2 separate regions of the Homo sapiens genome follow, and region 1 is linked to region 2. The links come from fine-mapping of genetic effects on gene expression. Tissue or cell type: lung. Region 2 holds a variant in brackets; the other region holds the start of a gene. All regions are shown on one strand. Distances are from middle to middle.

What was found. PIP is the estimated chance that this variant, and not a neighbour inherited with it, causes the effect.
Region 1: ZSCAN31 starts here. The variant in region 2 is fine-mapped to the expression of ZSCAN31 in lung (TOPMed, PIP above 0.99). The same link has a PIP of 0.9 or more in prefrontal cortex.

What each region holds. Positions count from the first base shown.
Region 1 is chr6:28,331,950-28,339,949 of GRCh38, forward strand. ZSCAN31 (zinc finger and SCAN domain containing 31) reads right to left here and starts at 4,199. Exons shown (of 4, transcript NM_030899.5): 1 at 4,133-4,199. RefSeq lists an enhancer at 3,745-3,864.
Region 2 is chr6:27,525,674-27,534,169 of GRCh38, forward strand. It overlaps TRS-AGA3-1 (tRNA-Ser (anticodon AGA) 3-1), which reads left to right and starts at 6,535; the gene lies at 6,535-6,616. The variant C/A (reference allele first, on the strand shown) is at 4,241.

The DNA.
Region 1 (8,000 bases), 810 kb after region 2:
CCACCATGAACTGTCTTTATCCTTAATGCATAGCACAGTGCCTGGCCCACTGTCAGTGCTCCATAAATGTTTTCTGGGCAAATAAATATATTCTCCCCTCCTATATCCCCTTTCACTTCATCAAGCCATGGTAAGGACAGGGAAAGGAACACAGAAGGGAAAATACACTCTTTCTTCTTGTCCCCCAAACCACCCCTGTTCCCAGGATGTATATGCATTACCCTGTGTTCCCAGCCAGTCCTCCCATCTCTTCCTATCTCCTCTCCCAAACTGCTACAGATTACAGACACTTCTTATTTTTAAAATGCCTAGAAGACTTAGAAGTCTGGACTTACCACAAAATTATGAACGCATCTTCAATGTTTTGTTTACCTGATTTATTCGATTAAATGCAAATTTGGTGTCATCTGATATCCTAGCAGGGAACAAATACTTGATAGACATCTGACAAATTAAATGGAATAAACTATTTAAAATGATCTTTACTGAAGCACTGCAGTACAGTGAATAACGTTCAAATCCTGTGGCCTCTCTAAGTGTTAATGACCATAGTACTCCTCTTATAGGTGTTATGATTATACAAGGTAACGCATATAAAAAGCTTAGCGCAGTACCTGGCCCATAGCAATCATTACATAAATATCAATGAGCAGGTATTATTAGTAAAGTAGTATTAGTAAATTGAATATCTTCATTTCATAGAGGAAATAGACCCAACAAAATAAAATATTGACTTCATATGTTAATAGTCAGTAGACAGTTGAAAATACTAGAAGAAATATTCAAGAAAATCCAGGACAGACTGTGACCAGTGGTGACCTCCCATTTGTGTACTGAAGCCCATCTCTAGATACCACCAGGGGTGTCCCCCTGAACATCCCAACAACAGCTCAAAAGCAACATTAAAGATTGGATTTAGATTTCCAGGGTGATATGAAACAGGCCAATTTATGATTAATTACCAAATTGACTCCAAACATTTGGCATTGGGAGATGATATATAAAAGGGGATAAAGAGAAAGACATGGCCAGCTACAAATACAAGACAAAAATCTCAGTGGACCAGAAACACAAACACAGAGTAGTTAGTGGAGTTGATGACTTGACTGCAGAAACAGTCAAAGACATCCTAGAATTCAACTCCTGGGGGATTAAATGTGGTGTGTCTCAGGTTGTAGGGAACCAGGCTCACTGTTTCATTCCAGGACCTGCAGTGGACTTCCACACTCATGAAAGGGAGACAGAAAAATAAAAGGTAGTTGACTGCTGACTCAGCTTATGACTTTATCAGCAACTAAGGCCCAGGAGGCAAGGGACAAGGAGAGACTCATTACTAGTAACTAACCTATTTATTTGCTCATTTAGTCAATAAATGTTCATTGAGCACTCATAACATACCAGGTACTTGGCTGGGCATTAGGGCTACAATGGTGAAAAAGACGGGACCAGGCCCTGTTTTGCTGGAGCAAACATTTTAACGGGGAAGACAAACCAAAAATAAAAGCAACAACAAAAATAAGTAAGGAGGCAAATAAAATAATTATGAGTTGTGATGATTACTGAGGATAATAAACTAGGCACTGAGTTACCAAATAAATGGACAGCCTATTTAGATGGGGTAGTGGGAAGTGAGGTAACATTTAAGCCAAGCCCTTAAGTGCAAAAGAAGTGAGCCATACAGAATAGGGATGAGGGAGGGGAAGAGCACTCTGGACTATCCAAAGGCCCTGAGGAAGTGCATGCTGCCATCAAAGACAGGAAAGGAGGCTGGAGTGTCTACAGTCATGTGGGAGAAGAGTGGCAAAATATTAGGCTGGCAAGCCAAGCAGGAGTCAGATCATGTAGGGCATAGGAGTTAGGATTTTATAAATGCAATGAGAAACCACTGAAGGCTTTAAGAAAGGGAGTGACAAGGCTGAATTCTGTACCGAGAAGCTCTGCTACTGGATGGAGAATGAGCTGAGGGAATGAGGGTAGAGGCAAAAGTGGAAGCAGAAAGCAAGAGTAGAAGCAGAAGAGGCAAGAGTTAAAAAAAAGGGTAAAGTGGAGGGGGTGAAGACTATTGCACTGAATCTAGAAAGACTTCCACTTAGTTTAGATGTTACTGTACAAGTGAAAGGAGAAAGAGCTTAACCTTTGTAAAAGCAGTTCAGTCACTGGACAATCAATTTATGGAGCTGAGCTAAGAGCTTGGAATATAGAGGTGTTTATAGCTCATGAGGATATAGTTACAATACAATAAAATAAAAGCCATAATTTAAAAAATGTATACAAGGTATACCCCTGGAGGAAGTGGAAGAGCTCATCCTAAATACAAGATTAAGTTTTTATGCATTGCCTGTAATCCACAAAGGAATTCATTTCACATATATTTACTAAGTGTTTACGAGGTGTCAGACAGCAAAGAGTGAAACAATGCAGAATTTGATGTGTCCCCACTGTCCTTCACCGAAATAAAAACATGGCAGAAAGAGCATAAAAGAGAATGTTTTCATTCATGAGAATGTTTTCATTCACGTCAGCATAATTAACAACAGCAACAAAGAGATCATGTAAATCACAAATCATGTGTGTTGTAAAATAAATCCCAAAGGATACCAATTACGATGACAAGAAAACAGAAGAAGACCTTAAATACCATGAGGAAACAGTCAAATCCAGAAATGGGGATGCACTACAGGAAGACTGGAAGAGCCTCCTTTTAAACAAGGCAATGGGATGGGAGGAAGGGAGGCAAAGAGTAAAATTGCCCTAGGTTAAGACTCAACTACATGCAGTGAGTGGTCTATGATTGGATCCTAGTTGGTACAAACAGGTATAAAAGACATCTGTGGGACAACAGGGGGTGGAAGGATTTAAACATGAACTAGGTGTTAGGTGAAGCGCCTACACTTAGTTGGGTGTGCTAATAATCTTGTGGTTATGTAGGGAAATGTCCCCAATTTTTAGAGATGCATTAGAAACTAGAGGTGACAAGTTATGAGGTTGGTGGTTTTTACAATATTTAAAGAAAACATATGCGACAAACATTGCATAATGTTGACTTATTAAATAAAAATTACGTGTATATAGGAAATAAGGCTTTTGACAGGGAGAGACCCTTCTCTACCTCTGGACCTCGGTTTCGCCGCAAAGCTCCGACCTCTCTAGGGGTCTCTCCCACCACCCTGTGAAAGGGCTACCTAGCTTGCCTTAGGTGGATAGCAAGGGAAGGGTCCCTGGAGAGCCTGCCCCCGCCCATGATTTAGTGTCTTATCCCCACATAACATAAAACTAAGCCTGGGGAAAAAATCAGGTTGCAGGCACCGATAAGGGAACTAGCACAGGGTGTTGTGCCTAGAGATATGCCCACGGCTGCATAGATAGAAAAACCTCGGGCCCATTTGGATAAAAACTTGCACAGAACCTCCAGCTCACTCAGATAAGGGAACAAGGCCTGACACATAATGCCTTTGTCCTTTGTATAGTCAGCAGGTTCCCAGGAAAAGTTTCTTCTCCTTTTGTGGGTATGGACACGGTGGGTTCTGGTAGGTTCCGGCAGGCGCTCTACTTTCCTTTATTAGGACTATAAGCCCAGCTTCTGTGAATCATCACCTCAGCCCCTGATTGGTCCGGGGCCAAACTTTCACTTCGGCTTCTGATAGGTCCTGGGCCAAGCTAAGCAGCAGCTATGAATCATCATTTCAGCTCCTGATTGGTCCCGGACCAAGCTGAGTCAAGCGTTCGCCAGGACAGCCCGCAGACTAAGCGCATTCCCTCTCCTTTCCAGTCCATAAAAACCCCAGAACGGGCCCCATAATGGGTACTCCCGGTCGGGACCCCTTCTCTGCTGGCAGAGAGCTTTTTCCTTTCGCTTATTAAACTTTCGCTCTAACCTCACCTTTGTGTCTGCGCTCCTTTATCGTCTTGGAGGCAGGACAAAGAACTCCGGGCGTTATCTCAGACAAAGAAAGGCTGTTTAATCTTCAGGATAAGGGGCGGGACCTCCACCTACTCCACGGGGGCTTCAGGCCAGTGAATGTGTAGGGGCGGGGGTCACGCCTGCGCAGACGTTCCCTCCCCGCCTACTCCAAGGCACAGACCTGAAATCTTCTGGGAACCTGGCGGGTCGCGACAAGGGGCCAAGACTCACCTTCGGGGCACCGGCAAGCTACGGAACAGGTGGCGGGGCTGCAGCACCCCAATGACCGATCAACCGCAAAGGCCGGAAATGCGTCAGCCGTTCTGAGCCCACTGGCTGAAGCCAGGCAACTCTTTCCTTTCTAGGAATTCCAGAGGTGGCTGCTGCTTGGTGACTCCCTTATTGCAAACCCCGGGGCCAAAAATCCCAGTCCCACTGGGTGCGAGGCGGAGAAATCCGGCGAGGCATTTCTATGGGGAGCGGCCCCCAGCATTTAGGAGTTAGATGGTCATCGAGACCCAAAACATTAGAGCCGGAAGGTGTTAGGAAGATATAAACGTAGAGAGCGAGTAACAGGAGGCAATTCCACGGCCAAACAGGTTTATTTACAGGAAAAGCCTGCGAAGAGTTCCAGTTAGGAATCTGGCTGAGATCCTGATCGCTTACAAGCTGAGGCTTTTATAATAAAGTTTCTGTTGGGGAGGGGTTGGGGAAGTGCTGGCTAGTTGGAACTGTTTGGACACTTTCCAACTGGGGACAGATGTGGTTAGGGCCGTTAGGCTCTGTTGCGGTTAGAGCTGTTATGCTCTGTTGAAGCTATGGACGGGGTTGACATTTGCTTTGTTTCTTGAGAACACAGTCATCAAGGTTGTAAAATGGCATCACTATTGTTAGTCCTCACAGAAGGGACTTCATACTTTTTCTGTCTCTAATACTTACCTATTCTTCCCCGAGTCTGTCCACTTCCTCTGGTCTCTTTGACATCACAAAGGAGAGATGGTAATGGTGGGGACGAGAATACAGAGTTGTTTTTGTTGTGGTTTTGTTATTTTGTGTTTTACACTCAAACCTCTGTCTTCTGGAATCCCAAAGTCTAGAAGAAGAGCGTGTAAACAAGTAACTGCGTAAAACAGACGTGCATGTGAAATGAAGTAAAATAAAATAAGTGCTTGTAAATCGATGAGAATAGCCTCTGGAACATGCTAAGTACGTATGTAGGAAATAAATGTATGTATTAGTTTGAATTCGTGGCGTGGAAGAGAGAGGAAAACTAATGGGGCAAAACAAGACTCAGCAGGAATCTGCCAGTGTACACTGGAAAAGGAGCAAAGGAAATAAATTTCTGGGAGAGGGAATCAAATGTACAAAAGCAGAACTGGGGTGAAATCCTTTGGTACATCCAAAGAACTGGGCTGATCAGCATGACTGGAGAGTGGTATATGTGGCAGGGGCACCAGCTCTTACTTTTTTTGGATCCCTAACCAAGGAATTTGAGCAGTCTGATCAAATTTACATCTAGAAATGTTATCTTGGCAGCCATGTGGGGATGGACTGTAAGGAAATGAGACTACAGGCAGGGAGACCAGCTAGGAGACTACTACAAGAATCCAGGGTAGAGAGAGTGAGGGCCTGAATCAAGGCAGTAGCAATAGAAATAGAGAAGACAGATAATACATGTTAAGAGGTTGAATTGATTTTTTACAACTCATTCATTAATTATATAGATTCCCATTGAATGCGATCTTTGTGCCAAGGGCTTGCTGGATATAATAATAATGAAGGACACAAGGTCCTCATCCTCATGGGGTTTATAATGTAACAAGGAATACAGACAGAAAGAGACCCAGCTTATACAATTCAAGAGACCTTATTTGAGAAAAGGAATACAAAATTACAAGTACAAACATAGATATGAAAATGGAGACTTAAGTCAGGTGTAATAGCTCACGCCTGTAATCCCAACACTTTGAGAGGCCGAGATGGGAGGATCTCTTGAGTCCAGGAGTTCAAGACAAGCCTGGGCGACATAGTGAGACTCTGTCTCTGCAAAAAATAAAAAATATTATCCAGGCACAGTTACTCATGCTATTAGTCTCAGCTACTGGGGAGGCTGAGCAGGGATAATCACCAGCTGCAGTAGCCATGATCGTGCCACTGCACTCTAGCTTGAGTGACAGACTGAGACCCTGTCTCCAAAATTAAATAAATAAATAAATAAAGAAGGAAAAAGAAAAAAAACAAAAATGGAGATTTAGAATGGAAAATAGGCCAGGCGTGGTGGTTCACGCCTATAATCCTAGCACATTGGGAGGCTGAGGCAGGCAGATTGCATGAGCTCAGGAGTTCAAGACCAGCCTGGGCAACGTGGTGAAACCCCATCTCTACCCAAAATACAAAAATTAGCCAGGCATTGTGGCACATGCCTGTGGGTCTGAGGTGGGAGGATTGCTTGAGCCTGGAAGGTGGGGTTTTCAGTGAGCTGAGATTGTGCCACTGCACTCCAGCGTGGCTGACAGAGTGAGATCCCATCTCGAAAAATAAATAAATAAATATAGAATGGAAAATACATTCTTTACATCACATTACAATTTTTTTTGTAATTGTAATGATAATTACAATTACAAAACGAGACAGAACAGGGTCTCGTTCTGTCAACTAAGCTGGGGTGGAGTGGTGTGATCACTGCAACCTTAAACTCCTGTGCTCAAGCAATCCTCTTGCTTCTGCCTCCCAAAATGCTGGGATTAAAGGTGTGAGCTGCTGCCACCACATCCAGCTATACTACAAATTTTAAAGTCTTCCAAATATCACAAACAAAAATCAGAAAAATAACAAAATATTTTTATTATTTAACTGCCTGACTCCTCTATAGTAACTCTCCCCTAATTTGTTGGCTTTATGTTCTTGGACTGCTTCTTTGTATGTTAATTTCATAATTTAAATTTTTCTAGAAAGAATAAAAAGTTAATGTAGCCATTCCTCTAGCATGGTTGATCAAAAGCTTTTTAAAATTGTTGACATTTGAGTAAACTTCTATCAAGTTTCTTTCAATTATGAGCTACAAGATTTCAGGACATTCAAATTTTTTTATGTGGGGACTAATCTGAGAATCTCTGTGTTGATGACACATTAACTAGTTGGTCTTAGATGTCCTCATTGTCAATGGCATATTATGATGTCTTTGTCAATATCAGTATTTTATGTAAAATGTGCAAGAAATTTAAATCTCTTTTCAATGTGTTCAGTGATTCACTTTTCTTCACTAGAGAATTAATCCAAGAGCATATTTTTTTACTGTATTCAAAGTTTAGCTTTTTTTCTTAATGAGTTGCTGATTTTATATAATTTGACATTGTTTCTTTTGTTATAATTTGCTTCCTGATGTCAGAATAATTTCCATTGATTTTATTATCTTTATTTCTTTTGTTTCTCACATTCCATTAATTTTTTTTGGCAGGGGAGTGGGGAAGGAGTCATGCTCTATTTCCCAGGATGGAGTGCAGTGGCTCGATCTCAGCTCACTGCAACTTCTGCCTCCCAGGTTCAAGCGATTCTCATACCTCGAGTATCTGGGATTACAGGCATGTGCCACCACGCCTGGCAAATTTTGTATTTTTAGTAGAGACGGGGTTTCGCCGTGTTGGCCAGGCTGGTCTCAAACTCCTGACCTCAGGTGATCTGCCCACCTTGGCCTTCCAATGTGCTGGGATTACAGGCATGAGCCACCACGCCTAGCCTCCATTAATTTTTAAATTTAAATTTGCTCTCAGTTCTTTAATAAATTATTTAATTTTGTAATTTAGCATTTATTGCTTAAATCATGCCAAAATATCTTTTCAAATTGTAGTTAAAATGACTTATTTCTAAGATAGTGTCCCCTTACCAGATGCTAAAATTCTCTATTGTTATTTCAGTGCCACTCAACAAGAGAAAAATAAGAGATGGGGAGTCAGAAATGGAAACAAACAGTGGTTTAAACACCTGTTGCTAAAATATCCATTTTTTCCCCTCAAATTTTGCAGGCATATGAACCATGTAAACACATTGCTAGGTATCATTCCAGGCCAGGGCATTTGAAGAAACTGCAAGTGTAGAATCC
Region 2 (8,496 bases):
GCCCCGGCTACTCTGGAGGCTGAGGGAGGAGAATGGCGTGAGCCCGGGAGGCGGAGCTTGCAGTGAACCAAGATCGCGCCACTGCACTCCAACCTGGGCAACGGAGCGAGACAGTGTCTCAAAAAAAAAAAAAAAAAAAAAAGGGGAGTCAGGCTTTGGTCCAATAACTCATTAAAAGATTATTATTATTATTATAATTATTATTATTATTATTATTATTAGTTTGAGACGGAGTTTCGCTCTTGTTGCTCAGGCTGGAGTGCAATGGCATGATCTCAGCTCACCGCAACCTCCGCCTCCTGGGTTGAAGCGATTCTCCTGTCTCAGCCTCCCGAGTAGCTGGGATTACAGGCATATGCCACCACGCCGGCCTAATTTTGTATTTTTAGTAGAGACAGGGTTTCTTCATGTTGATCAGGTTAGCCTCAAACTCCTGACCTCAGGTGATCCGCCTGCCTCGGCCTCCCAAAGTGCTGGGATTACAGGCGTGAGCCACTGCGCCCGGAAAGACTTATTCTTTCTTATTCTTATTCTTATTCTTATTCTTATTATTTTGAGATGGAGTCTCGCTCTGTAGCCCAGGCTGGAGTGCAGTGGTGCGATCTCGGCTCACTGCAAGCTCCGCCTCCCGGCTTCACGCCATTCTCCTGCCTCAGCCTCCCAAGTAACTGGACTACAGGCGCCCACCAACACGCTCGGCTAATTTTTTTGTGTTTTTAGTAGAGACGGGATTTCACCGTGCTAGCCAGGATGATCTCGATCTCCTGACCTCGTGATCCGCCCGTCTCGGCCTCTCAAAGTGCTGGGATTACAGGCGTGAGCCACCGCGCCCGGCCTAAAAGATTATTTTATATTAGGGAAGTGTTCTCAGCCTCCTGTTCATTTGCCCTTGCTTATTTTGATTTTGTGTATTATGCAGCACAAACATTCACTGCCTTTTCTTTTCTTTTTTTTTTTTTAGACAGAGACTCGCTCTGTCACCCAGGCTGGAGTGCAGTGGTACGATCTCGGCTCACTGCAACCTCCCCCTCCCAGGTTCAAGTGATTCTCCTGCCTCAGCCTCCTGAGTAGCTGGGATTACAGGTGCAGGACACCACGCCCGGCTAATTTTAGTATTTTTAGTAGAGACAGGGTTTCACCATGTTGGTCAGGCTGGTCTTGAACTCCTGACCTCGTGATCCACCCGCCTCGGCCTCTCATAGTGCTAGGATTACAGGTGTGAGCCACCCTGCCCGGCCTGCCTTTTCTACCCTTAGGGACACTATGCTGTATTAACTATCTTCACAGCTCTGTAGGTTAAGCCCCCTCTGCTTACATAGCCAGATAATCATTATTGTATGGCTTGTCACCCATGTTTTCAACTTAAAAACACATGAATCATCACACAAACATTTTACAACGTCATCCGCACCATAGAGATTTTTAAAACATCTATCTCAAGAACTCATATAAAAACCAGAAATTTTTAGCAATTATATGTCACTTTGTTTCAGAGACTCCTTGAGCACTCATACCACTCAAGCTGGGGTCCTCCTTGCCAGCTTGGCAGTGAGTAATATAGTTGTCAAATCACATTTTACCATCTGCTTTCACAGACCTCTTCTGATACCAGCTGTGAAAGTTTGGGATCGCTGGAAAGCAAACACTAAGATGCATTACAAGTGCAAGGGGTTATTGACAATAATGCCCATAACAATAAACAAAGAGGAGAAGGAAAGATGAATGCAGTAAGAGATTTCAGACCATGATGTGGGTCTGGCATGGGCAAAATTAGAGAAGGAAGAAAGTAGGATTGGGTAGAAAAACCCTGAGGTTTTGGCACAGCTCTGAGAAAGTCTCGTCCAGCTTTGGTATAGAAATTGCTCATAGATAAGACCCCAGTCAAGCGGAAATGGCCAGGCTTTAGCGTACACCCACTCTGCTCACCAAGAAGAAAACAACCTCAGTTTGAACACTGTAGAAGACGGTAAAAGTGCTGTAGCTGAAGATGGTAAAAGTGCCTTGGAGGCTGTCAGCTGACAGCATTTCTTGCAACTGAAAACAAGTTCTTCCTTGAAGGAAGATCTGAGCAGCGCACCTCCATGGCCACAGAAATTTTACAATACACATTTAATGATATTTCAGTATAGATAAAGATTATTTAAACAAATCTATTTACCTAAATGACAAATATAGAACACTACACTCAACTAAAAATATATATTATTTATTTATTAAAAGATATTGTATTGTGTATATTTGATGCTTACAACATGATGCTATGAAATATATGTAGATAGTAAAATGATTGTTCCAATGAGGCAAATTAACATGTATCATCTCACATAGTTACATTTTTTTTGGACAAAACATCTAAACTCTACTCATTTAACAAAAATCCCTAATATAATACAATTCAATTCACTAGAGTCTCCATGTTGTACATTAGCTCTCTAGACTTGTTCATGCTACATATCTGCTACTTCGTATCCTTTAACCTACATTACCCTATTTCTTTTCTCCTCAGCTACCCCTGGCAACCAATTTTTTATTCTCTCTGTATGTTTGACCTTTTTTTTTTTTTAAATATATATCCACATATAAGTAAGATCTCATAGTATTTTTCTTTCTATGTCTGGCTTATTTCATTGAGCATAATATCTTCCAGGGTCATCCATGTTGTGGCAAATGGTAGAATCTCCTTTTTTAAGGCTGAGTAATATTATACACACACACACACACACACACACACACACACACACACACACACACACACACACAGATTCTTTATCCATTAATCTATTGACAAACATAGTTTGTTTCCATATCTTGGCTATTATGAATAGTGCTTCAGTGAATGTGGGAGTACAGATGTCTTTTACGAGGTAGTAATTGTATCTCCTTTGGGTTTATATCCAGGAGAGGAATTGCTGGGTCATATGGTAGTTCTATGTTTAATTTCTTTAGAAACATCCATGCTGTTTTCCATAATGACTGCACAAATCTACATTCTCACCAACAGTGTACTAGGGTTCTCTTTTCTCCACACCCTTGCCAACATTTGTTGTCTCTTGTCTTTTTGATAATAGCCATCCTAACAGGTGTAAAGTTATATCTTATAGTGGTTTAATATTGCATTTTCCTGATGATTAATGTTGTTGAGCACATTTTCATATGCATATTGGCCCTTTTATGTCTTCTTTGAAGAAATTGTTCAGATCCTTTGCACATTTTTCATGAGACTGTAGTGCTGCCAGCTGTGCTCAGAAGGTAAGTCTCTTTGACCATTTTTTAATCAGGTTATTTGTTTTTCTGCTATGGAGTTATAAGTGTTCTTTATAAATTTTGAATATTAACTCCTTTTCCCCAGTCTGTAAGTTGCCTTTTTATTTTGTTGATTGTTTTCTTTGCTGTGCAGAAACTTTGTAGTTTGGTGTGGTCCCATTTATTTATTTTTGTTGTGTATCCTGGACATTTGGCATGATATCCAAAAAAATTATTGCCAAGGCCAATGACGAAGAGCTTTCCCCCTGTTTTCTTATGGAAGTTTTGTGTTCAGGTCTTACATTTAGGTGTTTTATCCATTTTGAGTTGATTTTTGTGTATGGTATAAGAGTCTAATTTCATTATTTTGCATGTGGAAATCCAGTTTTCCAAGCATCATTTATTGGAGATTCTTCTTCTTTTTTTTTTTTAATTCTCTATGTCTTTTTTTTAATTTTTTTTTTAATAGTATTTATTGATCATTCTTGGGTGTTTCTCGGAGAGGGGGATTTGGCAGGGTCATAGGACAATAGCGGAGGGAAGGTCAGCAGATAAACATGTGAACAAGGGTCTCTGGTTTTCCTAGGCAGAGGACCCTGCGGCCTTCCGCCGTGTTTGTGTCCCTGGGTACTTGAGATTAGGGAGTGGTGATGACTCCTAACGAGCATGCTGCCTTCAAGCATCTGTTTAACAAAGCACATCTTGCACCGCCCTTAATCCATTTAACCCTGAGTGGACACAGCACATGTTTCAGAGAGCACGGGGTTGGGGGTAAGGTTATAGATTAACAGCATCCCAAGGCAGAAGAATTTTTCTTAGTACAGAACAAAATGGAGTCTCCCCTGTCTACTTCTTTCCACACAGACACAGTAACAATCCGATCTCTCTTTCTTTTCCCCACATTTCCCCCTTTTCTATTCGACAAAACCGCCATCGTCATCATGGCCCGTTCTCAATGAGCTGTTGGGTACACCTCCCAGACGGGGTGGCGGCCGGG[C/A]AGAGGAGCTCCTCACTTCCCAGACGGGGCGGCCGGGCAGAGGCGCCCCCCACCTGCCAGACGGGGCGGTGGCCGGGCGGGGCCCCCCCCCCACCTCCCGGACGGGGCGGTTAGCCGGCCGGGGGCTGCCCCCGACCTCCCTCCCGGACGGGGCGGCTGGAGATTATTCTTTCCCCCATTGTGTCCTCTTGATGCCCTTATCAAAAATTAGTTGGCAGTATATGTTTGAGTTTTTTTCTGGGCTGTCTATTCTGTTGCATTGGTCTGTTTCTGTTTCTATTCAGGAATGATTATGCTGCTATCAGAACAATATGTCTTGATTATTTTAGCTTTATAATATAATTTTAAAGCAACAAGTGTGATGCCTCCAACTTTGTTTTTCTTTCTCAGTATTGCTATGGCTATTTGGTGCATGTGTGTGTGTGTGTGTGTGTGTGTGTGATTCCATATGAATTTTAGGATTATTTTTTCTACCTCTGTGAAGAATGTCCCTTTGGAATTTTGATAAGGACTGTACTGAATTTGTATATTGCTTTGGATGGCATGGACATTTTAACATTATTAACTATTCTAATTCATGAACATTGGATATCTTTCCATTTATTTATGTTGTCATTAATTTCTTTCAACATTTTATAGTTTTCAGTGTAAAAATCTTTCATCTCCTTGGTCAAATTTATTCCTAAGTATTTTATTTTTTGATGCTATCATAAGTGAGATTGTTTTCTTGATTTGTTTTTCAGTTAGGTCATTATGTTTATATAGAAATGCTACTGATTTTTTTATGTTGATTTACATATTATTTTTAAATACCCTTGGTGGGCCCTAATGCAAGTCTTTAAAAATGTACAAGGATTGAAATGACACAGAATATATTCTGTGGGCCCAGCATAATAAAAATAAAATCAATATCAGAAATAAAATGGAAAACCCCAAAATGTTACTAAATGAAAAAACACTCATCCAAAGCCATAGCTTAAAGAAATCACATTTAGTTAAAATGAAAGATAAAATAAGATATATAAAAATTTGTGTAATGCAGCTAAACTGTGCCCAAAGTCTAATTTATAGTTCTACTTGCATATATTAGAATAAAGATGTTTCAATATTTGATGTTAAAGCTTTTTTCTCAATAATTTAGAGGAAAAGAGCAAATTAAAATGTTAGAAACAAGATTATAAAAAGATAGAACACACACACACACAAACAAACAGAGAATATCAACAAAGCCATAAACAGGCATTTAGGGATGATTGACAAAACTATTGTTCTAAATCAAGGATTGTTCAACAAAACGAAGAGAAAACAGAAAATACTAATACCAGGAATAAATATAGGATAACATTACATTTTAGTATATAGACATCAAGAATATACTAAGAATACAGTATGAACAATGTTTTGTAAATAGATTTGACAATTTAGGACAGATTTCCTTCAAGAGATGATTTACCAAAACTGACAGAATAAGGAATTAAGACCTTGAGTTTACTCCTCATCTCTCTTTCTTCTACCTGGAAACCACACTAAGTGAGTAAATCTACTTTTTGTTTCCCAGAATCGTTAGTGAAGCTCAGATAAGCATTCAAAGGGCATTTAAATAAGTGGGGACTTAAAAAAGAAAAAAAAAAGGTAGTAAAAATCTACCTTTGATTTGAGATGCAGGGGGAGTCCTTTACTGGAGGTCAAAGGGGGAGTTGTCAAGGGGAAAAGATGAAGTTTCTTAGAGGCAATACCAGGCTCTCAAACTGACAATAAGTGGATTTCTAGTGTATCCTCTTACTAAGTGTAGCCTCTTACTGGGCTACCACTGAAATACTAGTGCATTTCCTTTCAGTAAATAGAAGTGCATCTCATTCCTTTTATCAATTGCAGAATCTTCCATTATATGGATCTTCCAAAATTTATTTTAAAAGTCAAACATCGATGGCCATTTGAGGTTGTTCAAATCATTGCTATAACTCAAAATTCTGCAGCAAATGTTAGAGCTTGTCGCAATTGTTGCGGGTGTTTCCTGGAACACCATCAGAAGCGGATGGAGCAGGAAGCTTGGTCTCTGGGAATGCCTCCCCGCGTAGTCTCCTTCCATCAAAACATCAGAATAAGGGGTCCTCCTAGGTCCGAGGATAAAGTGTTACTTGTCAGTTTACCACAACAGCATGATAGTCATCTAACTGATGTCAAAAAATAAGAAACATTGACAGCGAATACACTTTTTGGCAGAAAATTTGACCTTTCCAAGGGAGCTAAAGTTCAGTACAGTGACTTATGCTAATGGACAAAGTGTCCTTCACGTAGTCGTGGCCGAGTGGTTAAGGCGATGGACTAGAAATCCATTGGGGTTTCCCCACGCAGGTTCGAATCCTGCCGACTACGGTCCCTTTCTTGTTGGAAAGGGAGTCTACTGACACCTTGCCAGATTGAAAGTCCGGTGTCTTGCCAGGTTGAAAGTCTGTTATTGTCTCTCAGGAAGAAGCTTGCTTGTTCCAACCTGTAGGCTTTTCCTCTTTATGGACCCACTAAAAATACTCCATGTCTCTGAAACAATGAGGAAAAGTCATACAAAAAAAAGTACTTCTATCACAGTCGTATTATTGATGTTTTCCTTTGCCCTAAGAAGAGCTCAGGGTGATGTTTTTCTGTTTCCTGAAACAGATGCCCCATTTTGAAGACAGCTTTCCTTAGAGAAAAAAATTGCTAGGAGTGTTTGTGTCTCACAGAATTGTCCCCTTATTAGGGATCTTCTCCAGTCAAGCAAATGCCCTGGTTTAACGTAGAAAAGGAAATTCCAGGAAATCCATGATCAAATACAAGAGAAAGTGGCACACAGGCATGGTCACCAAGATGAGAATCTATATTGGGCATTTATAAGCAAACCACTACATAATAAAAGATTATTGAGTAAAGCAATTTTTTACATAACCCAATTAAAAAAAAATCAACCATGTCAAGTGGAGTGGCCTGTCCTGGGGTCCAGGACAGTGGTGAAGCAAGAGTGACTAAAACCGAGGTGAGGTTGCGATTATATCCTGAGCACAGAAAGAGCCCCAGCTCAGATGCAGAATCTCATTGTGATGAACAATTATGGGTTAACGCATTGACCAAAAGAATGTTGACCACAGCTGAGTATCTTCCTAGGAATTCCTAGGGGAATTCACGCATCACTGCCTTGGCAGCTTAAGTGGAGCTTGTCCTCACCTCTCTTCTGCAAATCTTCAAAGAGTTGTGATTTATTTTACCTCATCCAAGAATGATTCTAATATTTTTTCATAAACAGAGTGCCGGCCCTGTTCATTGATAAAATACCAGATCCTTTCTTCTTTTATGTGTCTCTTTAGAGCACTGCATTTCAAAATTAGTGGGGCAGTGAGAGTAAACTGCCACAAATCCTCTACTGAGCAGTGCAGGCAGGAGGAACAAGACTTGTCTCAGTGTACGGAGATTCAGGTTTCCAGAGGAGGAGCCTGATCAGTTCTCCTACCCTCTCCCACATCCAGCATGCAGGTTCCTTTGATTCGGAAAAACAATCTAATAGAATTCTAGAATGTGAAAGCTAATGAAATGCTAAAGCCCTTTTGAGGAAATAATTCCTAATAGTAGAGTTAAGTATTCCATCTGACATATATGATCAGAAATTGAAAATATAAATTTGTTCAAAAAGATATCTTAAATGGGTGGGCGCAGTGGCTGACGCCTGTAATCTCAGCACTTTGGGACACCGAGGCAGGTGGATCACCTGCAGTCAGGAGTTCAAGACCAGCCTGACCAACACGGAGAAACCTCGTCTCTACTAAAAACACAAAAATTAGCCGGGCATAGTGGCGTGTGCCTGTGATCTCAGCTACGTGGGAGGGTGAGGCAGGAGAATCGCTTGAACCCCAGAGATGGAGGTTGCAGTGAGCCGAGATCGCGCTGCTGCACTCCAGCCTGGGGGACAAAGCAAGACTCCGTCTTAACAATGATAACAACAGAAACATATCTTAGAGAGGAGTGTTGGTAGCATAAATAGGAGCTTCTCTCCTTCTGGATGCTTTTTTCTGGAAAGCCCATGCAGACTCAAGTTCAGGTTCTGGGGCTGGAGCAGAGATCTTGAGCAAGGATTGATCTTACAGAATTTTGCCTTGTAGAAGAACAGCATTTGATCTAGTTTCTGAATAATGCCATCGAGTTCTAGAAGGGTTTTGTTTTGTTTTGTTTTGTTTCTCTTCCTACTACTAAGGAAGAGAAAAGATGTCTTATAGACAAGAACGTAACAT